Linked DNA regions of Homo sapiens: region 2 is linked to region 1. Evidence: fine-mapped expression QTL. A gene starts in region 1. The other region holds a variant in brackets. All regions are shown on one strand. Distances are between the middles of the regions.

Region 1 (10,368 bases):
GGCCCCCCGCCCGGCCAGCCGCCCCGTCCGGGAGGGAGGTGGGGGTGTCGGCCCCCCGCCCGGCCAGCCGCCCCGTCCGGGAGGGAGGTGGGGGGGGTCAGCTCCCCTGCCCGGCCAGCCGCCCCGTCCGGGAGGTGAGGGGCGCCTCTGCCCGGCCACCCCTACTGGGAAGTGAGGAGCCCCTCTGCCCGGCCAGCCGCCCCGTCCGCGAGGGAGGTGGGGGGGTCAGCCCCCCGCCCGGCCAGCCGCCCCGTCCGGGAGGGAGGTGGGGGGGGTCAGCCCCCCTGCCCGGCCAGCCGCCCCGTCTGGGAGGTGAGGGGCGCCTCTGCCCGGCCGCCCCTACTGGGAAGTGAGGAGCCCCTCTGGCTGGCCAGCCGCCCCGTCCGGGAGGGAGGTGGGGGGTCAGCCCCCCGACCGGCCAGCCGCCCCGTCCGGGAGGGAGGTGGGGGGGGTCAGCCCCCCGCCCGGCCAGCCGCCCCGCCCGGGAGGTGAGGGGCGCCTCTGCCCGGCCGCCCCTACTGGGAAGTGAGGAGCCCCTCTGCCCGGCCACCACCCCGTCTGGGAGGTGTGCCCAACAGCTCATTGAGAACGGGCCAGGATGACAATGGCGGCTTTGTGGAATAGAAAGGCGGGAAAGGTGGGGAAAAGATTGAGAAATCGGATGGTTGCCGTGTCTGTGTAGAAAGAAGTAGACATGGGAGACTTTTCATTTTGTTCTGCACTAAGAAAAATTCCTCTGCCTTGGGATCCTGTTGATCTGTGACCTTACCCCCAACCCTGTGCTCTCTGAAACATGTGCTGTGTCCACTCAGGGTTAAATGGATTAAGGGCGGTGCAAGATGTGCTTTGTTAAACAGATGCTTGAAGGCAGCATGCTCGTTAAGAGTCATCACCAATCCCTAATCTCAAGTAATCAGGGACACAAACACTGCGGAAGGCCGCAGGGTCCTCTGCCTAGGAAAACCAGAGACCTTTGTTCACTTGTTTATCTGCTGACCTTCCCTCCACTATTGTCCCATGACCCTGCCAAATCCCCCTCTGTGAGAAACACCCAAGAATTATCAATAAAAAAATAAATTAAAAAAAAAAAAAAAAAAAAAAGAATCTTATAACTTCCAGCTGCACGACTCCTAAACCATAATTTCTAATCTGTGGCTAATTCATTAAACCTACAAAGGCAGTCTAGTCCCCAGGCAAGAAGGGGGTTTGTTTTAGGAAAGGGCTGTTACCATCTTTGCTTTATTTTTCTATTTTTGTTTTATGAGACAGGGTCTAGTTGCCACGCAGGCTGGAGCACGATCTCGATCTTTGCTCACCGCAACCTCTGCCTCCGAGGTTTGAGTGATTTGTGCCTTAGCCTAACAGCTGGGATAACAGGTGTGCACCACCATGCCTGGTTTTTTTTTTTTGTATTTTTAGTATAGATGGGGTTTTGCCATGTTGGCCAGCCTGGTCTCAAACTCCTGGCCCCAAGTGATTTGCCCGCCTCAGCCTCCCAAAGTGCTAGGATTATAGACGTGAACCATCATGCCTGGCTCCATCTTTTTTTGGCTAGGTCAGATCTCTTTCACTGTCTCAGTTATAATTTTGCAATGGTGGTTTCAATCACAGTGTAATTAGTTGTCAAAAGCCTAACACAGACAAGGTCTGAATTTAGAGAGAGTGATGTATTTTAGCTAAAGGAGGTTTGGCACGTTTCACAGAGAAACACTTGAGACTGGCTTTGAAGAAACTGCATAAATGGACTGGATAGAGAGATTAAACACTGTATTTATTTTAGGCCAGTATGTTTACTAGTTGCCTTCATATCTAATCATGAACTTCTCGGGCAGGTGCGGTGGCTCATGCCTGTAATCCCAGCACTTTGGGGCACCAAGGTGGGCAATCACTTGAGGTCAGGAGTTCGAAACCAGCCTGGTCAACATGGTGAAACCCCCATCTCTACTAAAAATACAAAAATTAGCTGGGCATAGTGGTGTGCATGCCTGAAATCCCAGCTACTTGGGAAGCTGAGGCAGGAGGATCGCTTGAACCCGGGAGGCAGAGGTTGCAGTGCGCTGAAATTGTGCAACTGCACTCCAGCCTGGGCCACAGAGAGACTCTGTCTCAAATTTTAAAAAATAAAAGAAAAAGAAAAAGAAAAAGAAAAAAAAAACATGACCTTCTCAAAGGGGAAGTTTATCACAAATCCTTTCATTTCCCTTCCCAACCCCACATTCTGACCACATTAAATATTTTTAAGATGCTCTCTATACCTCTAAGCCTTTGCACAAGCTGATTCCTCTACTTGTGAGAGTTTCCCTCCCTTTCCATCCCCTTCAGATACTCTTTCCTAGCTAACTCCTCCCATTTTTTTTTTCAGGTTTGGTTTTTCTTTTTTTACACTGAGTCAGAACATTATTTTAATAGTTACAAAACTTTTTTTTTAACAGAATCAGTATAAAATAGCAGTTGATTTCTCCATAATTATCAGAATTATTTATATTTGAGGTCTTGCCTAAGTGGGGCTGAAATCAACAAAAGGTCTTGGACTACTGGCTCAGAAATCATCCTAGGAAGCCCGCCCTGTTGACATTTGTCATGCTTAGCTCTTATGAGATGACCCGGTCCTTTAAAAAAAAAAAAAGTATCTCCGTTTATTCTGTTTATTTGGAGGTTTGAAGTGAATTCGGCAGCATTCATTAAACTCCTTCCAGCTCCTGTCATTTATCATTCTGACTACATCCATTTCAACTTTGCCTGCTCTGTTCTGAGTTGCTTTAACAATATTAAATCGTCCAAATTCTTTTCTCTCTCTTCTCAGAGGTTTTTTACTACTGCTGAGGTCTGGGCTATATAGTTTTTTATGACTCTGTCCCTACTGGCATGAGCTGCCATCAAAGACTCAAAGTTGTTTACAGGTTTGGCTGGCATCAATCTTCCCTGCAAAGGAAGCTGTTGGAACTGTAGTGTTTAATTAATGTACTAGTCTGTATCAACTGTCCACATCACCTTGAGTAATTCCTGGAACTCGGCGAACTCCTCACAGTTCACACTGCCACTGGGTGCCACCATACTGGACTCAGGTTCACATCTTAATTGACCTCCTCTCAGAAATTTTTGTCTCTTTAAGTTCGTAAGTGCTTTGGTTATGCAGTCCCATAGGACCTTGTACTTTCCTTATAACCCTTATAAGCACCAGTTTGTCTGTTTCTTTTGCTAGAATCCTTCAAGTCAGGGACCAATACCTGCTCTGCTTGTATCCAACTCCACTGCCTGGTGCAATACCCTATATATAATATGTACACTACAAATGTTTCTTGAATACATTTAAAAGTTACATTTCTCAACAACTGAAAGCATTCTTAGGTTATTCAGTAATATTGAGTACAAAAAAATAACAATCATACAGATTTGTAGAGTTTAATCAGTAAGAAAAATGCCTAACTGTATGTACCTAAGTGCTTATTTCTTTTATGTTTCTTATATTGTACCTATGAAAAGAGAAATAACCTGAGGTCTTAGTTCCTTGCAACACAGGGGACAAAACTATTATATACCATAATCCACTTTTAAAAACTAAAAACTTCTGCAGATATAAAAGCATGTTTTCCCCTTTTTTGCCTGAATCATTTCTAAACTAAAAAATCATTTGGGAATTGTCTTTAAAAGCAAGAAAGTTGGTAGCCGGGCATGGTGGTGCACACCTGTAGTCCCAGCTCCTCAGGAGGCTGAGGCAGGAGGGCTGCTTGAGCCTGGAAAGTGGAGGTTGCGGTGAGCCATGATCCAGCCACTGCACTCCAGCCGGGGCAACAGGCAAGACCCTTGCTGAGGGACCCAACAAACAAACAAAAACAGGACATAAATCGTTTTTTAAAAATAGCAAGAAAGTTGGTAGTTTTTCTTATAATTATCTCACATCTGGCTGACTCTAATTCTCCAACAGGTCAATGGAGCAAAAGGTTTTTTTTTTTTTCTCCTTTCAGGAGGGAGGGGGTTAGTTGTCTCTTTCCTGTATATAAATCAAGAACAGAAGAAAACCTATTTCTCCGTTCTTCATCTATGATACAGACTCTGAAGCTTGTATGGATAGGGCATTTGACCTGGGTTTCAGAAAGTAGCCCCTGCGGTAAGCATCAGGGTGTGGGGAACAAAATGGTCATTATTTGCTTGAAACGACAGATGATAATCTGTCTGTGATTCCAGAATACCTTATGTGTACATTTCAGAATAAAATTAGTAAGGATTAATATTTAAAAATCCAACACATATCAGTTATTTGTTATTCTGTAGTCAAAATATTATAATTCCCATATAGTACATATCTAAAATACTCTCTGAATACAAAATTTTGATAACTGTCTAATTACCACGTAGAAGTTTCCAAAGTATTCATGGTTTATAGCCACCTGAATTGAAAACTGGTTAAGTATCAGGAACAATAAGTTCTAATCATATAATTTGAGAGTAACAAATCAGATGAATAATCCAAGCCAATAGCCTTATTTTACAGGTGGGGAAAGGGTTGTGAGAGGGTTATACGAATTGCTCAGTACAAGGAATACATGTCTGGTGGGGTAGGATTAGAATCCAGCTCTTCTGATAGAGAGTCCTGGGTTCTTTTGATTGACGATATATTGCCAAAGCATCAATCTTACGCTGCTGATGTAAATTAGATTAAATTGGCAGATAAGAATTCTGATTAGAAAATTTAAGAATCCATTACTCAACAGAAGCCCACGTTGTTCTCTTTGAATGATATATATAAAAAAATCATGCCTAAGGTAAACGGAATCTTCTTCAGTGACTTAACTCATCTAACAATTTCAATTGTGATTTGAAAAGACTTTTTTCACTACACCACTGCCAGACTTTCCTTCATTATCGTTTTCTCATCCACCCACAGTAGTTGTCCCAGATTTCTGTCAGAAAGTTGAATAGACGCTAAAAAAGGCACCAGTAACCAGATATTTAAAGTCAGTTTGGAGAGCACAAATTAATTCTGTACGCTTAGTAAGACACGACTGAAGACCTTTCCACAGGGAACCTAAAGAGGCATTAAGGGAAGATGAGCCGTCCAGCATCAGGAGACGTAACAGGTTGAATGAAGGATCTTTCTTCACAGTCATTTTGTCACGGGAATTACTATCTAAAGCAACGCTGGCTTCAAACTGATTTTGCATCAGTCGCCCATCAGCTTGTTTAAAATGGCTGCCAAGGCCCCAGCATGGAGATCCGGATTCAGGTGGTCTGGGGCAGAGCTCAAGGAATCTTTAAGAAGCCCCTTCAAGTGACTCTGGTGCACAAAGAGAACTCCTAGTATACAGGACTCCAAATATGTGTGTCATGCTGGAGCTTCATGACCAGGTTGTCACCGCTTCAACCTGTTAGAACTTTCCATCCAAACCTGTCTTACTCCAAAGTGCCTTTGTACTTCCGGAAGCAGGGATCCCTGTCGTGGGGATTACTCCGAAGAGGGAAATAGCTGCTTCCCACTCCGGGAATTTAAGACAAAGGCGAATATCACTGCTGCATCATGTCGGCTGCTCCTAATTCTGCCCTTACGCTGTGCTTTGTAATCTCTAACCCGCCGACTCGGCAGGAGAAAAATTTAATTCGGTCACAGAAGCACTACACAGGACCCTAGGCCTTATCACTTTCCCAGGGTGGAGGAAACACCAGGTCGGGGAGAAAAGCAAGACCAGGACTGGAAGGTCCTCTGCTAGTACGCCCTCCCCTCAACCTCCCGACCTTCCTCGCCGCCTCTCTTCCTGTGACCTTGTCGTGACTCCGTGACCGGAGCGCTCGCTCTCCTATCCCGCCTCGCCTGCCGCTTAGCCCGCTCTTCAGAATGTTCCAAGCTCCGGGGAAGCTCCCGCTCCTCGCTCCCCGCCGTCGGGCCCAGTCAACACCCTCCTGGCCCCCGTCTCTCATTACCACCCCATCAGCGAGTCTTCCCCGCTCGGCAACTCACTCCACAAGCTTCTGCTCCATCTCCTCGCTGGCTCCGTCTCCCCTCACCCGAAGGACCCTAGGCCTCGGCTCCCGACTCCTCTCATCCGCCCATGCTCGAGGCCGGGCCTGAGCCCCGGCAACTCCACCTCTCCTCCCTCATTCGAGACACGGACTCCCAGCCCCCACCCCCAAAGTCCTTTCGGCCTGGCCAAGCGCTGCCCCACTTCTTCCCGCCCCGCGGCCCGAGTCCCTGGCTCGCAGTCCCCCGGCTTGTTTCGCTTACCTAGAGCGAGAAAACCTCTCACACCCCAACCGGCTTCCGATCCCTGCAGGCGCACCCAGTCCTCCCGGCTTCTCCCCACCCACAGCCGTCCCAGCCAATCAGAGGCCAGCGGCCGCAAAAGGACGCGTGCGTGTGCGCGGCGGGTGGGGCAGTGCAGAGCGGGTCCTGGATTGGCTGGGCCGGTGAGTGCTGGCCCACTACCCCGGCTCTAGCGTACTGGCGGAGACAGACGTGAGAGCTCGGCGCCTGGGGTTCGCGCCCGGGCACTTGAGGGGCTTTGGCTCCTGGCCCAAGGACTCCTCAGATTTCTCCTGCCCTTTTCCCCTCGGGCAGCGGAGGCGAGCACCGCGAACGCCGTGTCCCGAGCGCCGCCGCCTGCGGACGCCTCACGGGCCGGGAAGGGATGCGGGTGAGGGGTTTCGGCTGCGGGTGAGGTTGTGTTCCCCGACCCACCCGGGTCCGACTGCTTGTTCTCGCCGTTCAGTAACGAGATGCAGACAGACTGGGAAAGAACGGAGTTTATTTCTGCAACAGGTTACAGGGAGAAGGTCGGAGTAACTCACCAGACCAACTCAAAATTATTAATACAAGTTTTTCTAGTGCTTAAATACATTCAGTGCATTTACAAGTCGAAAGCCAAAGTGTTTCACTCAAGCCAATCTTTAACGGTAATAGGGTCAGGTGTCTAGACAATTGCTTCAGAGCCTTGGAAATAATCTAAAGTGGGTCCTGGTACAAGGTGTGCAAGAACAACTCCATTATTTTAATTAAACTCTAGGGGTTGAAAAAGCTCAGGCGGGATCCTAATGGACTTGTCTTTACATTCTAGCCTTTCTCCTAAGGCACCAGTTTCTCCAATGTTTAACTTATACATGCATCAGAATGACAGTGAGGCGTTGGTGAGAGCTGCTCTGGTTGCTAATGGAGATCTGGCCTGCCACAGTGGGAGCAGAGCTTGCCCAGTGCGCCGGGACGACTGCGGGCTCCATCCATTCCGCTCCCAGGGCGGTTGTCGGCCAGGACCGTGAGCTGTCAGGTCCCCCGCGGGATCCTTCCTGGAGCTTACACTATAGTAGGAGGCAGCCAGTACTTGCAAGCACGGGGTCGCGGGAACTACGACCTCACCCAGGCCAGGCGACCTTTCTCTCAAGAAGGAGATGTCAGAGGCCCCTCGTGACAGCGAGCTTCCGGGGACAGGGCTCCTAATGTGTTTGTCAAGTAAATAATGAGTAATAATCCGGCCAATTGGTGGGTCAACGAAAAAAGTCAAACTCTAAGATATTTGAAGAGATTTATTCTGAACCAAATGTGAGTGACCGTGGCCCCTGACACAGCCCTCAGGAGGTCCTGAGAACATGTGCCCAAGGTGGTCCAGGCACACTTGGTTTTATACATTTTAGAGAGGCATGAGACATCAATCAAATACATTTAAGAAATACATTGGTTTGGTCCAGAAACGGGGGACAACTCAAAGGCGAGAGGGGAGGGGGCTTCCAGGCTATAGGTAAATTTAAACATTTTCTGGTTGATAATTGGTTGAGTTTGTCTGAAGACCTGGGATCAACAGAAAGGGAATGTTCAAGTTAAGATAAAAGATTGTGGAGACCAAGGTTCTTTTGAAGTCTTGTAGTGGCTGCCTTTAGAGACAATAGATGACAAATGTTTCCTATTCAGATGTTTGAAAGGTGCTAGACTTTTAATCTCTTTAGGATTGGGGGGCCTGGAAGAAAAAGATCTAGCTATGTTATAGGGATTCTTTACAGATGAGAATTTTTCCCCGCAAAGGACAGCTTTGTATGGCCATTTCAAGATATGGCAAAGAAATATGTTTTGGGGTAAAATATTTTTATTTTCTTCCTTGTCTTATAATGTTATGCCAGAGTCAAGTTGGAAAGTAAGTCACGATATATAGAGTTAAATAAAACCCATTTGATGATAACTTATTATTTGTGGGGCATGACTCCCCAGACCCCTTAGATAGGAATTTGGGCATGATAAAAAAAATCAGAGCTTAGTCCTCAGATGCAAAGCATCTACAACTGCACCATGGAGAAATCTGTGATTAAGTTAGAGTTTCTTGATATAACCACAAAACAAGGCAGACTACCAAGTGCTCGTCATACAGATAGGAACTAAATGTCATGGGCTCAGGATTTTGAAAATCGTTCATCTCATAATTAAGATACATGTAAGAAACATTTCATGCTATGGATGATTAAGAACTTCATACTTCGCTGGGCACGGTGGCTCACGCCTGTAATCCAAGCACTTTGGGAGGCTGAGGCAGGCGGATCACCAGGTCAGGAGATCGAGACCATACTGGCTAACACAGTGAAACCCCGTCTCTACTAAAAATACAAAAAATTAGCCGGGTGTGGTGGCGTGCACCTGTAGTCCCAGCTACTGGAGAGACTGAGGCAGGAGAATGGCGTGAACCCGGGAATCGGAGCTTGTAGTGAGCCAAGATCGCACCACTGCACTCCAGCCTGGGTGACAGAGAGAGATTCTGTCAAAAAAAAAAAAAAAAAAAAAAGAGAGAACTTCATACTTTGATTATATGGTAGCTTTCAGCTCCTTGAAGGCACATATTTTGTCTGGATGATCCTGGTATCTCCTTGAATGCTGCCTGTGTGCTCAATAGAAATTCAATAATGGTAAATGAAGAAAGATGTAAATGCTGCAATAACTGGAGGGTTTAAAAGATAAGTAGGGATAGTCAGGAACTATAGGATAAACCCCACTGCCTTCAATATGAAGGTCAACCGGAAGTCATTAGTCTCTTGATTCTGTAAACACAAAGGCTAATGGCAGCAGTGACCAAAGCATATTCATTTCTGAAGGCAATGTATATGCCTCAAACTAACATCAGCTAACTTGTTAATTTCCAGAGAATAAGATATACTGCCCCATCAGCGGAGAGCAACTAGTTGGCAACATACTAGCCGTGACCTTGGATTTGATTTCTCAAAGTGTCACTTTTTTCACTTGTAAAATGGGGGGTAACATGAATGATGGTTAAAGAGGAAATATATGTAGCATGTTAGCCCCATGCTTGGCATGAAAAATGTTAGCTATTGCTTTAAAAATTCCTTGCTGTGTACTGTGCAAAAAGAGTCAGACCTTGCCCTTGAAGCTGTAAGTATAAGCACCTTTTAAACCAATTACTATTAGGGCTCCCAATCCAGACCCCAAGAGAGGGTTCTTGGATCTCCTGCAAGAAGTAATTCTAGACGAATCCATAGAGTACAGTGAAGGCAAGCTTATTAGAAAAGTAAAGGAATAAAAGAATGGCTACTCTATAGGCAGAATACCCCCAAGGGCTGCTGGTTGCCTATTTTTATGGTTATTTCTTGATTGTATGCTAAACAAAGGGTGGATTATTCATGCCTCCCCTTTTTAGACCATATAGGGTAACTTCCTGATGTTGCCATGGCATTTGTAAAATGTCATGGTGCTGGTGGGAGTGTAGCAGTGAGGATGACCAGAGGTCACTCTCGTCGCCATGTTGGTTTTGGTGGGTTTTAGCTGGCTTCTTTACTGCAACCTGTTTTATCAGCAAGGTCTTTATGACCTGTACCTTGTGCCAATCTCCCATGTCATCCTATGACTTAGAATGCCTAACCTCCTATCTCATCCTGTGACTTAGAATGCCTAACTGTCTGGGAATGTAGCCCAGTAGGTCTCAGCCTTATCTTACCTAGCCCCTATTCAAGATGGAGTTGCTCTGGTTCAATCATCTCTGATGATTGATTGGTATAAAGGTCAAATAGCTAGTAAGTAATAGAGGTAGAGGACTGTAAACTAGGAATTTTGATTCCGCTATATTTTAGGAATATAGTATCGCTCAACAGCAAGTAATTTTTAAGACATAGAAAGGAAATACATTTTTATATATAAGCTGGACTCTATTCATAATATTAAAAAATAAGGATTTAGACAAATTATAGGATGACAGATCCACATAGATAATTTAAGGAAGTTAGATATGCACTCTATGGCTACAACTGTGTGGAAGATGCACATTTGTCCCCCAAAATCTCTTTATTGAGGCTACTGGTATACACTACTTGGTAGAATTGTCATTAGTCTGACCCAGTTTGAATGACGGTTGAATTTAGGAGAAAAAAGTCCCATCTTTCGACAAAAGTGTA
Region 2 (16,420 bases), 47 kb before region 1:
ATGAAAACTGCCTGCTGAAACTCTTAGCAATGTCTTTTTTTTTTTTAACCCAATGTTTTATTTAAACTATCTGGATGGAAATTTTTCTTAAATGGGCTGACTACTTCTCTGTCTTCAATAGACACTCCTGTGACTCATAGATATTTGACAAAGGGACCTTCAAGGTCAGCCCATTTAAACCCCTTCCATAATGATGAAAATAAGGCCCAGAGAGGGGAGGTAATTTGCCTTCAGGCATACAGCTGGTTGGGGTGACACAGGTGGGATGAGAAAGAATACTTGTCCTTCCCCTGCCCTGGCTGACTCTTCCAATTTAAGCTGCTGTTAATGCTGGGCATTGTGGCCACAGGAACGTTGGTTGTCAGGCTGAGCATCCCATCAGGCAATGACGCTGAGGCCCTCTGCTGCTGCCCCAACAGGGCAAAGCAGCTGAACTTCAGGAAGCAGGGCTGGTACTACAGTGGCTTTCTGACCTTTCTCTAGCAGGCACAAACAAAATCTCCTCTGAATGCTAGTGTGAAAGACAGATCCAAGTATACTGGGTCCGGGAAGTTCCATGGACCCCAGAGGCTCTGGGCAGCCCAGCTGAAAACCACTGGCCAAAGAAACTAGACATGAACACCTGGTCCAGAAACTCTGGCCTCATCCAGTGTCCTCATCTATGGAATGAGTATACAAATACTTTCCTGCTCCGCTTCCTCAGAGCACCACCATCAGGCTAAAGAGAACAGCCAACGTGAACAGAATGTGCCAACTCGGAACTTATATGAAACATAATCTCAGCTCACTGCAACCTCCGCCCCCCCGGGTTGAAGCGATTCTCCTGCCTCAGCCTCCCGAGTAGCTGGGATTACAGGTGCCCACCACCATGCCTGGCTAATTTTTGTATATTTTTTAGTAGAGATGGGGTTTCACCATGTTAGCCAGGCTGGTCTTGAACTCCAGACCTCAGGTGATCCACCTGCCTTGGCCTCCCAAAGTGCTGGGATTACAGATGTGAGCCACCGTGCCCGGCCATCCTTTTTTTTAAAGTATATTTTCTTCTGTGTTCTTCCTCCTGTCTGGCCGCCTGCCATCCCTGCATACTCTGTTGGGTGCCTGCCTCTTCTCCTGTTGAATGTGTGGCTTTGAATCTGCCCTGGGTTGGGAAGCAACACCCCTCCACCCCCTGCCACGCCCCGCCCTGCCTGTCAGATCTCTAGCGCCATGAGCCCCAGTGGCCCTGACAGTGGGGGTGCTGAGAGCTGTGGGAGTACATGTGCTTCCATATGGCTGCAGTGACCCTGCAGCATCTCTTTGATCTGCTCAGAGCATGGAAAAAGCATACAGATTGGATCTGGCTCTAGAACCTGGGCAGTGATGCCCTGTCCAAGCCTCATTTTCTCATCTGTAAAATGGGGATATGTAATGCCAATCTCCAGGGAACCTGAGAGGGTTGCTAGGACAACGCATGTCAAGGGTGCTGTCTGGGGCAGGTCCTGATGGAGGGCAATGCTGGCAGGCCTAGCCTGGCTTGAGTGGGCAGCTGACAAGTGGGCTGAGGGCTAGATGGTGTTCTGGAGAGGGCTGGATCAGGCCCCGTCCTCCTAGCTTAGGCAGTTGAGCTAATCCTACCTCTAAGCCATTTCAGAGTTCTTTCTTCCCAGAGTGAAATTCCACAGGCTTTGTGGGGGACCTGGGTATGGGTACGCTCCCTCCCCTACCCGAGGCTGTTTTCTTTGAGAAAATAACTAAAGCGCAGTACATGGGGAGCAGATGATGCCAACGCTACTCACATCACGGCCTCCTGAAGCCCCAAGCAGAGGGAAGGGTGTTCAGCTCCACTCTGGAATGTGCTTTGGAGGCCTAGGGTTGGAATGTGGATTGAGCCTGCAGGCCTCTGGAGTGTGGCTCGGGCTTGGGCCGCCCTGAGCAGCCTATGAGGGGAAACATTGCTTTTGCTCTCGCTCTGATCAGGAGATGCCAGGGAGAACACGTGGTGCTGATGAATTGAGACCTGCGGCCCATCACACACTCTTCTCTCAGAACCTGGAACCTCCCAGGCTCCCTGTGGCCACAGAATAAAGTCAAAACTCCTGCTCCAGCTGCCATTCAAGGGCTCCCTCTATGGGTGACTTCACCCCAGCTTTTTTGGCTTTCGTTCCCCTTTTCTCCCGTGTGAGCTCTGGGCTGCAGTCAAATGTTATCCAGCTGACACTCAGTTCACCTTCCCCATCTTCCTTCTCCAGTAAGGCCAGCTCAGGGACGCCCTCCTCCGTCCCACCTTCCAGCTGCAACCTTAATGGAGGGTGGACTCCCCTGTGAGCTTAGAGCACCGGGGCCATCTCTGAAGGCCCTGTCCACATCCTGCCTTCGAATGACTTCTCATTCCTCCTCTGGGATTCTCCATAGACAGAGCCTCTGTTTTTTTGGTGGTTGTTGTAGTTGTTTGTTTGTTTGTTTTGAGACACAGTCTCACTCTGTCACCCAGGCTGGAGTGCAGTGGCGCTATCTCAGCTCACTGCAACCTCTGCCTCCCAGGTTCAAGCGATTCTCATGCCTCAGCCTCCTGAGTAGCTGGGATTACAGGCGTTCGCCACCATGCCTGGCTAATTGTTGTATTTTTACTAGAGATGGTGTTTCACCATGTTGGCCAGGCTGGTCTCGAACTCCTGGCCTCAAGTGATCCATCAGCCTCAGCCTCCCAAAGTGCTGGGATTACGGGCATGAGCCACCTCACCCGGTCAAGGCTCTATTTTTGATTCTCTGTGCCACAGGGCTTAGAAAATCCCATCAGGCTGAACAAGCAGTTTCCTATCCAGGGCAGCCCTAGTTCGGAATGTGGAGGTGCTCAATGCGTGGAATAAACCAGGGGCAGCTTAGCAGTGTCCCCTGAAGCCAGGAAAGGCCCTGAAGAATACTCAGCCCCTGTAGAGGGCAGAGCCCCTCTTCTACTTCCCCAGCAATGAGACAGGTTTACACAAGACTACTCTTGAGGAGGCACATTCACCTCGGAACCTGAGGGCCCATCCCCGCCGGAACCTGAGGGGCCCATCACTGCACAGCGAGGACTGAATTATCCTCAAGGAAGGCACAGGGCAGTCTGATCCTGAGGTGCAGGCAGCAGGGAAGATGGGGCTAGAAAACAAGCACCAAATTGGGAGTCCCGGGGCTTGGCTGCCTCTCTCACCAACTGGCCTGGCTTCCCAAGAAAACCCTTGGTGAAGCCTCCTGGAATGTTAGACTCTGATGATATTTACTATCTGATTTGGGGATAAACCAACCCACTAGGTCAGACTGACTTCCTTTCATGGAGCTGCAATTCCCACCTCTTGAGTTTCATGAACTGTCACTGGTTTAGTAAAATGGGCTCTGGGGAATAAGTCCCCATTTCCAATAGCCACTTTTACTCTGTAGATTTGGAGCCCCACGAAAGGGAAAGTGTTCATAATATGAACTGCCCCATAAAGAACAGGATTCCACTGGGCAGTAGTGAGCTCCCTGTCCCTGGAGTAAGGTGGAGTCTGGATGTGTCCCCAGTGAGGATGCTGTACAGGAGATGGCTGGGCTGACAGTGGGAGGTCAGTTGGACCAGGCCTTCCCTCTTGATCCTCAGGCTCTAGTGTTCCAGGGTTCTCAGGCTCCTCCCAGCCTTCCTTTCTGGAGACAGAGTTGGAGCTACACCCTCCATAGCTTCCGACACGACATTCTTGGCCTCAGGCCATACACTCGGTACTGTTCTCTGATGTCTGCTCTGAGGATGCAGCAATGGTAGACAATGGGCACCTGGCTCGGCAGCGGGGTTGGGGGTTGGGGGTGGACCTCGGGTAGAGGTACCTACACACCTGTGGAGGAGGGGAGGCCCAGGCCCATGGCTGCCTCACAGACTTCCCAGCACAGAAGAGAATTCATACCAATGCTCTGTCTCCCATCTGGGCCCTCGGTGGCTTGGCTCCTGCGTCGGTGGCCCCCTTGGCTGACAGCCTGGTCAGGGCTGTCTGCAGCTGAAAAAGCAAACCTCGTGCTTAATACTCTGCTCAGCGATTGTGCAGCCCAAGGAAAGCACTCTGGTGCCATTGTGTGTGTGGTTACCTATCTTGGTGGTGTGTCCTTTTAGCTCACTTTAGGATCATTAATGGCAGCATTCTCCTTTAGAAACCGCTCTGGAATGGAGAGGGTTTAATTGATTGTCTGACCCATTCCCTAATCGTACTATAAAAGTAGCCCAAGGGTTTACTAACAGCTTAATAAATAATAATGGTACACTTATAATCTGTCTCCTGAAGTTCCAACAATAGTCTAGGAGGCGGGGCAAAAAAGAATGATGGATTTCAGGTTACAGATGAACAGATGAGGCCAGAGACACCAAGAAGCCTGTTGGAGGGCAACAGAATTGGATTTAAAATGCAGCACCACCATATACTGCGTGACTTGAGAAAGCCTCTTAACCTTCCAACTTCAGCTCTCCCGGCTACATATGGAGAAGCTAGGGAGGTTCCCTCTTGCCCATGCTAGGAGTCCCCTCCAGAGGGAGAATGACCAAGGCCCCTCACTTCCCGCTCCAGCTCCTGGATGCGATTGGTCAGCTGCTTCACCCTGGTTTTTGCACCCTCTGATTCTGCCATCAACAGCCGGTTCTTTTTTGATAGCTCCACAATTTTGGTGGCGACCACGTCTCCGGCTACACCGGCTGTCCCTAAAATGAAAGGAATGGTGAGGTCAATTAAAAACACAGGCATACACATCAAACTCATGCTCCACCACTAACAGCACCAGGGTCTTAAAAGCTAAAGCTGCTTGGCATGAATGCTCATAAAGGGGCACTAACTTAGGAGGGTCACCATATACCTAGCAGCCCTGGGACCCAACTCCAATGAGTGGAAATGCAGCCACTCAGAGGTTCAGTATGTTCTAGGAAAATGATAAAAACAGAAAGCAGAGTTTTAATTCTGTGAGACTCAGGTTTATCACTCCGATGCTTCATGTAATCCTCAGTGATAGGATTACATCCATATCCCAGTAATTTTGCTGTGCCCTCTAATGAGCAGGATGTAGTCCCCTTGGGCCTTCTATGACTCTGGGCTCAACCATTTGGCTTGCTTTGGCCAATAGCATGTTAACAGATAAGGTGCAGATAAGGTAGAGGCTTGAAAAGCACTCGTGCAGTTAAATTCGCTGTGTTTGCTTATGCCCTCTCCACAGGAAGAACATACCTGGCTGGCTGGTCTCAAGAATAGAAGAGAGACATGTTGAACAAAGTGGAACCAATCTAGCCAAGCCTGGCCTAGATCGGCCAATCCCCAACCAACCCCCAGATGTTTAAGCTAAATAAATGCTTACTGCTGCTGAGATTATGTGGTTGTTTCTTAGAATTTGGTGGTAACGCCTACCCAATAGAAAGGCATACATTCATTTAGCAAATATTTATTTTCTACCAAGTGCTGGGTCCTCTTGGTGTTAGGGATTCAGTGGTGGATAAAAAAGACTTATGGGGTTTACATTCAAGTAGGGAAGACAGATAATTTAAAACATCAAAGAAATAAATATGTATTCTAATATGTAGCAGGAATAAGTGCTAGGAAATACACTGGAGCTGGGCAAGGGGGTAAGAACGAGGGAGATGATGCTATTTTAGATGGAGTGGCCAGGAAAGGCTCTCTGAGGAGGTGATGTGTGAAGAGAGACCTGAGTGAATGAACTGAGGGCTCAAACCATGAAGAGTGCTCTCACCTAGGAAGAACATTCTAAGCAGAGGAAATGGCAAGTACAGAGGTCTGGAGGTGGAATGTGCTTAGAGTATCTGAGGACCATCAAGGACTCCAGAGTAGCTGGAAGGCTACTTGCAGTGGGCAAAGGAAGGAGGCTGTGGAAGGTGGCTGGAGGATGTGAATGGGGAAGTTGTATGGTATGGGAGCTGTGTGGAAGGCAGGCACCGGGAGCTAGTCCAGCATCGTCATCGACTAGGTGGGTAGCCCTGACAGTCCCTTGCCCTCTCTGGAGTGCAGCTCCCCTATCTGTGCAATGGCAGAGGTGGTCAGATGGTCTGCAAGTTTCCTGAACACTTCTGACACCATAGCAGGGAGTAACTGGCAGTCCTATTTTTTAGTCCTGCTTTTTAACATGACCATCATATGCCTCAGAACAAGAAGAAGGGTGACAACTGGTGGAAAGCAAACAGGCACTTTATGGCTTTCAAATCACCTCAGCCCAGGCTTGCTCCTGCCAGCCTGGGCGAGGCAGTGAGTGGGGCAACTAGGAGTAGCTGCCCTTGGAATCTCATGTCTGCTGAAGAAGACAAGGACACACCAAGAGAAAAGGCTCAGAGCAGACCTGGAGCCCTGGAGTATCTAGAGGGAGACAGGCCCCATTCAGCACCAAGATGGCACACTTTGCTCCCTGGCTCCTTTAATAGGTTGTGTGTCAGGAGGGTAACGGGGGTGGTGATAATAAAGGATCACTGTGAAAATCATGAACTCTAGCAGTTAAAGAAATGCAGTTTCAGCAGAGGTCTGGTTCTGGTTAAGATGGAGTAAGCGCACTCTACCCTGTCTCTTTTGCTGAATACAACCAAAAGCCCTGGATAGGATGTGTGAAGCAGCTACCTGAGGGTTCCGGACATAAATGGTAGCAAGCATATTGGGGAAGGAAACCGGACCTAGAATTACAAATGGTCCAGTGGTACGTTTCCTCCCAGGACTCAAATCAGCACAAATTCTGGAACTGGCTATCAGAAAGAGGTTCAAGAGAAGGTCTTTCTAGTCCAAAGAGCAGGAAGTGGGGCTCAGACAGAATGGAAAAAATCCTCTGGGTATTTTTTTTTCCTATTCTTTCCCAACCCTGTCTCCAGGCAAGCTCTACTGTTGAAGCTGCAACCCCTTGATAAATGGGGGCGGCAGTGGATGGGCAAACACAGAAATGCTAACTATCTGGCTAAATAGAATAGTTTTCCCTTTGGGTTCTTTAAAATACATATAATAGTTGAGCAAAAAGTATAACATTGACTGATGGGATTTTCAATATATATAGATATAATACATATAAAAACTGCAATAGAAAGGGAGAGGTAAAGGGACCTGAATGGTGGTAAAGTTTCTACATTCCATTTGAAGTGGTAAAATATTAGTTCTACGTAGACTATGAAAAGGTAATAAATATTTTGTAATCACTAGATCACTAAAAAACTGTACGAAAAATATAGTAAGCAAACAAAACCCAAAGGAATCACTAAAAATCCAGCCAAAAGAAACCGATCTATCAACTCTCAGTAGCCTGTCACTTGCAGCTCAGTTTAAAAACATAAATGGAGGCCAGTCGCGGTGGCTCACACCTGTAATCCCAGGACTTTGGGAGTCCGAGGCGGGCAGATCACAAGGTCAGCAGTTCGAGACCAGACTAGCCAACATGGTGAAACCCTGTCTCTACTAAAAATACAAAAATTAGCTGGGTGTGGTGGCACACACCTGTAATCCCAGCTACTCAGGAGGCTGAGGCAGGAGAATCACTTGAACCCAGGAAGTGGAGGTTGTGGTGAGCCAAGATCGTGCCACTGCACTCTAATCTGGGCAACAGAGCAAGACTCTGTCTCAAAAAGAAAAAAATTAAAAACATAAATGGGCTTGTCAGATTTTCTCTCCAAAACGTGAGAATGAAAATCAGAAATGGTGACTTCAGAGTGAAGACTGGATTTAAGTGGTTTTCAGGGACGCTTAGGGCTGGCAGTCAGATGAGGCCACAACCAAGTCTGGGCTTTGGCAAAGCTTGCAAGAGACAGTTAACAATGAGAGGGGCTGGGGAAGAGGGAGTAACCCCAGATCTGCTTCCCAGGTCTGCTGGGTGGAGATGTATCTCCTGCTCCCCCTGGAGCCCATCAGCTTCTCTACAGCCTTGCAAAAGTGCAAGTGGCCCCTTCCACAGCTGAATCTGTAACCAGGCTGAGTGTAGGCTTCCTTAGCCAGGCTTTGTGTTTTTTGTTTCAGACAGAAAAGGCCAAAGAATGGAGGGAGGTGCATTAGGCTACCATGAGTCTTTAGGATACCAAATTCCCCTTGCTTTGTAATTCAGCATTGACTGACCAGAGCTTTGGTCCTATGAACGTACCTATCCTCAAACGCATTTACTCTCAAAGGCAAGGACAATA[G/T]TCTGGTAGATGCTGAGTCAGCCCTGTTGCTCTCCGTGATTGGTGACATCTATAATACTTTCTTATTTATTAGCCATCTGCGAATTGCTCAATGGGTATATACATAACACAGGACAATCAAGTCCAAAGTCCTCACTACATCAGCAGGGCAAAAGTCAAACTCATAACCACAGAGCCAATGTCCAGCTCACAACCATGATCAAAGGTCATTCCCAGACCTGCAAAGCCAAGGTCCTCACCAGACTCATGGGGCCACCATGAGGTCTCCACCAACACAGCCAAGGTCTAGCCCAGACTTACAGGGCCAAGACCCAGCCCACACCTTGTTGGTGGTTGGGTCCCATGATATCCTCCTAGAACAGGTGACTCATCTACCTTTCTGGAGCAGCAACAGCAGGTGCTGTAGAGTTCATACCTGGCTCTACTGGGGCTTTTTTTTTTTTCAAGACAGGATCTCTGTTGCCCAGGGTTCAGTGCAGTGGGGGTGATCATAGCTCACTGCAGGCTGCTGGGCCTTTTTTATGTTCACAACATAACATGTGAGCCAGTGCACCAAGGAGAAATGGATCCTGCCAGCCCCTTTACATGCTGCGAGCATGATGGCAAACCCTTGTCATGAGTCCCAGCTGGATCACCAACATTGCCTATGATGCTTGCCTGCTGGCCCTTCTGGCCCATTTTTAAATCCCTCATTGCTCCCTGTGCTCCCATTTTCTGGTGGGCTGGCCTCCCTGGGGCTGCTCTTTTCCTCTACCCTCTCCCTCACTTCCAGGACTCCTCTGGACAAGCTTGATCACAACTGACCCTTGGCACTCTCTTGGGAATCTGCTCTCTGGAACCTGCTGTCTGCCCTATCTGAAGTCCCTGGACTGCAGGGCAAGGACTATCACAACAATGGTGGAGCTACCTGTGAAGGCAAATCTGTCCTCTTCTATTTTCTTTTTGAGGTGTTTGATTTCAAAGTCCCTTTCCTTCAGCAGCTTATACAATCGCCCGTTCTCGTCCACCGTTTCCCTGAGCTCATTTCGAAGGTGTTCAATCTCATCTTCAAGCACCCTACAAGGCAAAGGCAGAATTAATGCTCCTCCAAGGCAAAGGCCCTGGTGGGCAGGGGTCAGGCCTCCACTGCCTAGGTGGACAGATGGACACGCAGATGCAGACACACTGACGTGAAAGAAGAAAGATTTCAATGTCGTTCATTAGCTGGCTTAAATAGGGAGTTATAAAAAAACCCACTCATAATTCATATTTCTTTTAAGCATCCATGGAACATGCATAAAAATATATTACAGGGCTGGGTGTGGTGGCTCATGCCTCTAATCCCAGCACTTTGGGAAGCCAAGGCAGGAGTTTGTGACTAGCCTAGGCAACAAAGAAAGACCCTGTCTCTAAAAATAAAAGAAAACAAAATTAGCCAGGCATGGTGGTGTACACGTGTAATCCCAGTGACTCTAGAAGCTGAGGTGGAAGGATTGCTTGAACCCAGGAGCTTGAGGCTGCAGTGAGCTATCATCCTGCATTCCAGCCCGGGTGACAGTACAAGACTCTGTCTCTTAAAAAAAAGTATTATAGGTTATAAAGGGAATCTTAGCAAATTCTAAATAATAACATTATACAGACTATTTTCTCTAATGGCAAGTGACTGTTTTAGAAATCAATAATAAAAAATAGAAATAAAACAAGAAAACCCAAAACTCATCATATGCTTGGAACTAGAAAAACACCCTATACTCCTAAATTATTTATGGGTTAAGAAGAAATCATAATATGTATTATAAAGCATTTAGAATGGATTGACCACAGAAGCTGTATCAAAACTTGTTAAATGCAGCTATAATTAAGGCTCTAAGCTTCCTTCTATCACTTTAGCTGCATTTTACAAGTTTTGCTATAGCTCCGGTGGTACACACACACACACACACACACACACACACACACCCCTGAGAGATTTCAAACTTGCATTTACCTCTTCTCAAAGCTATTTTTCGAGTTTGGCTCCCCTGCGTGGAGAAGGCTGAGGCCATCTGAAACCTCCAAGGGCTCCTCTTGGTCGTCAGCTCTGCTTTTGAGGCTCAGTTCTTTTTCCCTCTTTTTCTCCATCTGCTTCTGTAACCGTTTGTGCTGCATCTCCTGCATTGCCTTGAACTGGAGCCGCAAAGTGTTCTGTGAGCTTTCATCTGCTGCCATCCTGCCCTAGGCATCAGAAATGAAGCCTCAGCTGAAGCAAACTCCACACCGAGCGCTCAGCACACAGTCCGCCCTGTCTGCAGCCCCAGCCTTGGAGTTTACTGCTTCGCGTTGCATGTATGTCCACGCAGAAGCTTGGAAGCTCCACCCTCACCTCAGATCACTAGAAACCCAAGGTTGAACTGAGCATCCTCCCCAGTTCCTGAACATGCCACCAGATTGCACATGGCATCAGAATAGTCTCCATCACTCAGACTCAACACTTGACTCTTGCCTGTCCCTTAAATCAATGGTTCTCAACTCTGGTTGAACATTGAAATCCCCTAGGAACTCCTAAATAACAATGCCTGGGACCATTTCCAGACCAGCTAAATCCCAGTTTCTAGGAACAGGGCTTGGCCATCATTTCTTCTTTTTCTTTTTAAATTCAGGTATAATTCACATGCAATAAAGTACATAAATCCTGACCATACGGCTCAGTGAATCTTTCCATAGACATATACCTCTGTGGTGACCACCCAGATCAAGGTACAGGGCACTTACGGTCCCTGAGCAGGCTACTTTGTGCCCCTTCCAGTGAATCATCCCCCAAGGTAACCATTATTCTGACCGCTACCACCTAAGATTAATTTTGTCTGGTTTCTTTTTAGTCAGTCTATCAAAGAATAATTTATGTACAATAAAATCCACCAGGTTGGGTGCAGTGGCTCATGCCTTGCAATCACAGCACTTTGGGAGGCCAAGGTGAGTAGACTGCTTGAGACCAGGAGTTTGAGACCAGCCTGTATAACATGGCAAAACCCCATCTCTACAAAAAATTGGTTGTGGTGGTGCATGCCTGTAGTCCCAGCTACTTAGGAGGCTGAGGTGGCAAGATCGCTTGAGCCCAGGAAGTGGAGGCTGCAGTGAGCCATGATTGTGCCACTATATTCCATTGTGAGTAACAGTGAGACCCTGTCTCCAAAAAAAAAAAAAACACAAATTTTATGTGTACAAATGAGTTTTGACAAATATATTCACTTGTGTAAACCACCTCCACCATCGTGAAAGAACATTTTCATCACCCCAAAATCCTCCTTTGTGCCCTTTTGCAGTCAATTTCCAGCCAATCCCAATCCCAATCCCAGGCAAACTCTGGTCTGCTTTTGTTCACTACAGTTTTGCCTTTTCTGGAATTTCATATAACTAGAATCATACAGTCGTTAGCCTTTTGTGTCTGGCTTCTTTTTTGCTCAGCACTACCTTTTTGAGATTCATCAATGTCATTGCACACATTATAAGCTCATTCGTTTTTATTACTGAGTAATATTACCTTGTTTAAATAAACAAGAATTTGATTATACATTCACTTGTTATTGGACATCTGAGCTGTTTCCAGTTTTGGCTATTATGAATAAAGCCGTTATGAACATTCATGTATAAGAAGGTATTTGTGTGAATGTATGTTTTTATTTCTCTTGGGTAAATACATAGAAGTGAAAATTCTGGCTTATATGGTAATTTATGTTTAACTTCATAAGAAACTGCTAAACTGTTTGCCAGAGTGGTTGTACCATTTTACATTCTTACTAGCAATGGGAGTCCCAGTTGCGCCATCCTCGTCAGCATTTAGGCTAGTCAGTCTAAATTTTAGACTTTCTCATTAGTATGTAAAATGGTATCTCAGCCGGGCATGGTGGCTCATCCCTGTAATCCCATCCCTCTAGGAGGCCGAGGTGGGTGGATAAACTGAGGTCAGGAATTCGAGACTAGCCTGACCAACATGATGAAACCCCATCTCTACTAAAAATACAAAATTAGCCAGGCGTGGTGACATGTGCCTGTAATCCCTGCTACTCGGGAGGTTGAGTCAGGAGAATTGCTTGAACCCAGGAGGCAGAGGTTGCAGTGAGCTGAGATCATGCCATTGCACTCCAGCCTGGGCAACAAGAGCAAAATTCTTGTCTCTAAATAAATAAATAAATAAATAAATAAATAAATAAATAAATAGGCAGGGCACAGTGGCTCATGCCTGTAATCCCAACACTTTGGGAGGCTGAGGTGGGTGGATCACCGGAGTTCAGAAGTTTGAGACAAGTCTGGCCAAAATGGAGAAACCCCATCTCTACTAAAAATACAAAAATTAGCTGGGTGTGGTGACACAGGCCTGTAATCCCAGTTACTCAGGAGGCTAAGGCAGGAGAATCACTTGAACCTGGGAGGCAGAGGTTGCAGTGAGTCAAGATTGAGCCATTGCACTCCAGCCTGGGCGAGGTTGCAGTGAGCCAAGATTGCGCCATGGCACTCCAGCCTGGGCGAGGTTGCAGTGAGCCAAGATTGCGCCATGGCACTCCAGCCTGGCCGAGGTTGCAGTGAGCCAAGATTGCGCCATTGCATTCCAACCTGGGTGACAGAGCAAGACTCTGTCTCAAAATAAATAAATAAATAAAATATAAATAAATTAATTAATTAAAATAAAATAAAAATAAAATGGTATCTCAATGTGTTTTTAATTTGTATTTCTCTGTTGACTAGTTATGTTGAGCATCTTTTCATGTGCTTGTTGACCATGTGTATATCTTCTTTTGTGATGTGTCTATTCACATTTTTTGCCCATTTTTAAATTGTATTAGACAATACAATTTACAGTCACAATACAATCACTCACTGTTACTGAATGATCAGTTTCTTGTACATTCTTGATACTTTGTCTGTTTGAACTTCACATAAATGAAATAATAGAGCACAGACACTGGAATTATTAAATGCTCCCCTCACGATTTTAAAGTGTAGCCAGTGGTAAGCATCCCTGCCTTAAACCAACCTCAAGCCACATCATCTACCTATCATCCAATTAATCATAAATCTTGTTTATTTTCCATAAATGTCCTAAAATCTGCCCCCATGTCTCCATTCCCACTGATACCAGGCTCATAACCACCTTGGGGTATCTGCACTTGCTGTTACCTCTCCAGGAATGTCCTTCCCCCAGACATCTACCTTACCTACTTCCTCTCAAATGTCACCTTATCACAGAGGTCTCCTCATATCCTATTGTAGAAGGCATCCCTGCCCTCGCTCCCCATGCCCTTGCCCTGTTTTGTCTTCCTCCATGGCACTGAGAGTCATCTGACACATTATATTTTGATTTGTTTACTTGTTGACTGCCTCTCTCCCTCCCCACCAGCTTCACAATGGCAGGCACTGTGTTGTTCATTGCTGTATCCTCAGTGCCTGTAGCAGGGCCTGGTATATGGCAGGCATGGAATGAATACTTGCTGAACAAATGAATAACATTTGCTGAGGGACAAGTTTCTCTAAACCACAGCTCTGAGCCTGACAGACTCCTGTGCAAAAAGCTTCAGCAGATGCCCCTTAGCCACAAAGCCAAGTCCAATGGCATTAAGCGCTTTGGATTTGGCCTCTGTGTCCTTCTAGCCTGTTTTCCCTTTCATAATGCTAACTTCTAGCTAGTTGTGTTGACTTGCTCCTCTGTTCCTATACCTCCTTCTCCCCCCAAGGCTTAAATCTTGCTGGTCCTCCTACACCCAGCATGAATACCATGGTCCTTTTCTGACCCGCCAGGAGGAATACTCTACCTACCCAAACAGCTTCAACTGCTCTATCTGTACCTTCTTAATATACTTATCTCCATCTCACACACAGGGGTGGTCCCAGAGCCTGTACCCAGTTACTCTTAAACTTGCTTCAATACCAAATCCCCAGGATACAATCTAAAAATGCTGATAACCAGGCCCACCCCTAGAGAATCTGATTTAAATTAGTCTGGAGTGGAGACCAAGCATGGGATGGTTTAACTGCTGCCCAGCTGGTTTTAATGTGCTGTGGGCTGAGCCCAGGGTTTGGCAAAGGTCAAACAAAAGCAGAAGCTGGTGTTATGTTGAAATTCCTTACCAGGCAGCTCTGCCCAGTAAGAGGAACTATAAAGAATTAACTCTGAAAACCTGTATTGTGCACACCCGCACATTCCAAAAAACATGTTTGGCCTTTGACCCGCTCCTAAGAGAGAATCTCTGAGCCCTTGGACCATCCTTCCTGATGAGAGTGTTTTTCTTCACCTGGGGACCTTGGGCCATTCCAGTCCATGTTAATTAACAATGTGATTCATTGCCAGGTGCAGGGTAGGCTGGAGGGGGCTGGAGATCGAGTGACTAAGGTCAACTGTACCTACGTAACCATCTCCTAATAAAAACCCTGGACACCAAGACTCAGGGGAGCTTCCCTGGCTGGCAGTACTCCATGTAAGTTGCCACGAATTGTTTCTGGGAGAAGTAAGTACTGTCAACATGACTCCACTGGGAGAAGACAACTGGAAGCTTGCACCTGGTGTCTCCTGGACTCTGCCCTATGTGTCTCTTTGCTGATTTTGACCCGTATTCTTTCATTGTAATAAACAATACATGTGAGTATAATAGCTGGCCCAAAGGCTATATCCTTTGTTAAAAGATAAACGTTAGGCCAGGCATGATGGCTCACACCTGTAATCCCAGCACTTTGGAAGGCCAAGGTGGAAGCACAGCTTGAGCCCAGGAGGTTGAGACTACAATGAGCTGTGATCGCGCCACTGCACTCTAACCTGGGTGACAGTCAGACCCTGTCTCCAAAATAAAAAAAGAAAAACTTTAAACAAATCAAATTTAACAGAATTCAACTGAGCAAAGAATGATTCACAAATCTAGCAGCCCCCAGAACCAGAACAGATTCAGAGTGACTCCAGGGCTGCCACCTAGTCGAAAAAGATTTATGAACAGAAAAAGGAAAGTGATGAACAGAAAGCACAAGTGAGGTACAGAAACAGCTAGACTGATTACAGCTGGCTGTTTGCCTTTTTTGAATACAATTTGAATAGCTGGCTGCCTGTGATTGGCTGAAACTCTGTGACTGGTACAAGAGTAGATTGCAGTCTGTTTAAATTCCTAGTCAGGTTACAGTTTACTACGTACAGAGAAACCTTTAGGCTGAACTTAGAATATATAAGAAGGCAGCTTTAGGCTACAGTTAGTTTAACACATCCCACAGACATTTTTGTTTGGCTCTTACAGAACACTATGTTAGGATTTGAATTTGTTGCCAACATTCAAAGAATTGTAGTTTCAATATCAGATTTCCAGTGTCAACAAAAACAGTCAAACTCTGTAAAATATTTGAAGAGATGTACTTTTTTTTTTTTTTTTTTTTAGATGAAGTCTCGCTCTGTCACCCAGGCTGGAGCGCAGTGGCACAATCTTGGCTCACTGCAACCTCTGCCTCCTGGGCTCAAGCAATTCTCCTGCCTCAGCCTTCTGAGTTGCTGGGACTACAGGCATGCACCACCACACCCAGATAATTTTTGTATGTTTTTGTAGAGACATGGTTTCACCATGTTGGCCAGGCTGGTCTTGAACTCCTGATCTCAAGTGATCCACCCACCTCAGCCTCCCAAAGTGCTGGGATCACAGGTGTGAGCCACTGCACCCAGTCTGAAGAGATTTATTCTGAGCCAAATGTGAGTGATCATGGCCTGTGACACAGCCCTCAGGAGATCCTGAGACCACGTGCCCAAGGTGGTCAGGGCACAGCTTGGTTTTATACATTTCAGGCAGACCTGAGACATCAATCAAATACATTTAAGATATATACCGATTTGGTCCAGAAAAGCAGGACAACTCCAAGGTTGGGAGGGGGGAGCTTCCAGGTGATAAGTAGATTTAAAATTTTTCTGATTGGTAATTGGTTAAAAGAGTTACTATAAATAGAAAGGAATATCTGGGTTAGAATAAAAGAGATAAAAGTTTTGATCATGCAAATGAAGCCTCCAGGTAGCAGGCTTCAGAGAGAATAGATTGTAAATGTTTCTTATCAGACTTAAGGTCTGTGTTGATGTTAAATGTTGGTCAACTTTTCCTGAATTCCAAAAGGGAGGAGGGTATAATGAGGCGTGTCCAACCCTTGCTTCCCATCAAGGCCTGAACTGGTCTTTCAGGTTAACTTTGGAGTGCCCTGGCTGAGAAGGAAGTCCATTCAGATGGATGGGGGGCCTCTGAATTTTATGTTTAGTTTACACCAGCTTCTTTTATAAAAGTTTACAGATCTGGCAATGCTGGGCCCATCGTCCCACACGGACAGCAGCTGCTATGC

The links.
Region 2: its variant is fine-mapped to the expression of HIGD1A in whole blood (TOPMed, PIP above 0.99).

Annotation. Positions count from the first base shown.
Region 1 is chr3:42,798,219-42,808,586 of GRCh38, forward strand. It overlaps HIGD1A (HIG1 hypoxia inducible domain family member 1A), which reads right to left and starts at 6,272. Exons shown (of 4, transcript NM_014056.4): 1 at 6,218-6,272. It also overlaps the pseudogene MIX23P4. RefSeq lists a silencer at 6,228-6,447 and an enhancer at 7,309-8,106.
Region 2 is chr3:42,748,043-42,764,462 of GRCh38, forward strand. CCDC13 (coiled-coil domain containing 13) reads right to left here. Exons shown (of 16, transcript NM_144719.4): 2 at 10,083-10,309; 3 at 9,024-9,172; 4 at 4,533-4,675; 5 at 3,894-3,983. The coding sequence starts at 10,303. Among named protein-coding and RNA genes, the nearest start is that of CCDC13-AS2, 14 kb to the right of the region's middle. The variant G/T (reference allele first, on the strand shown) is at 8,117.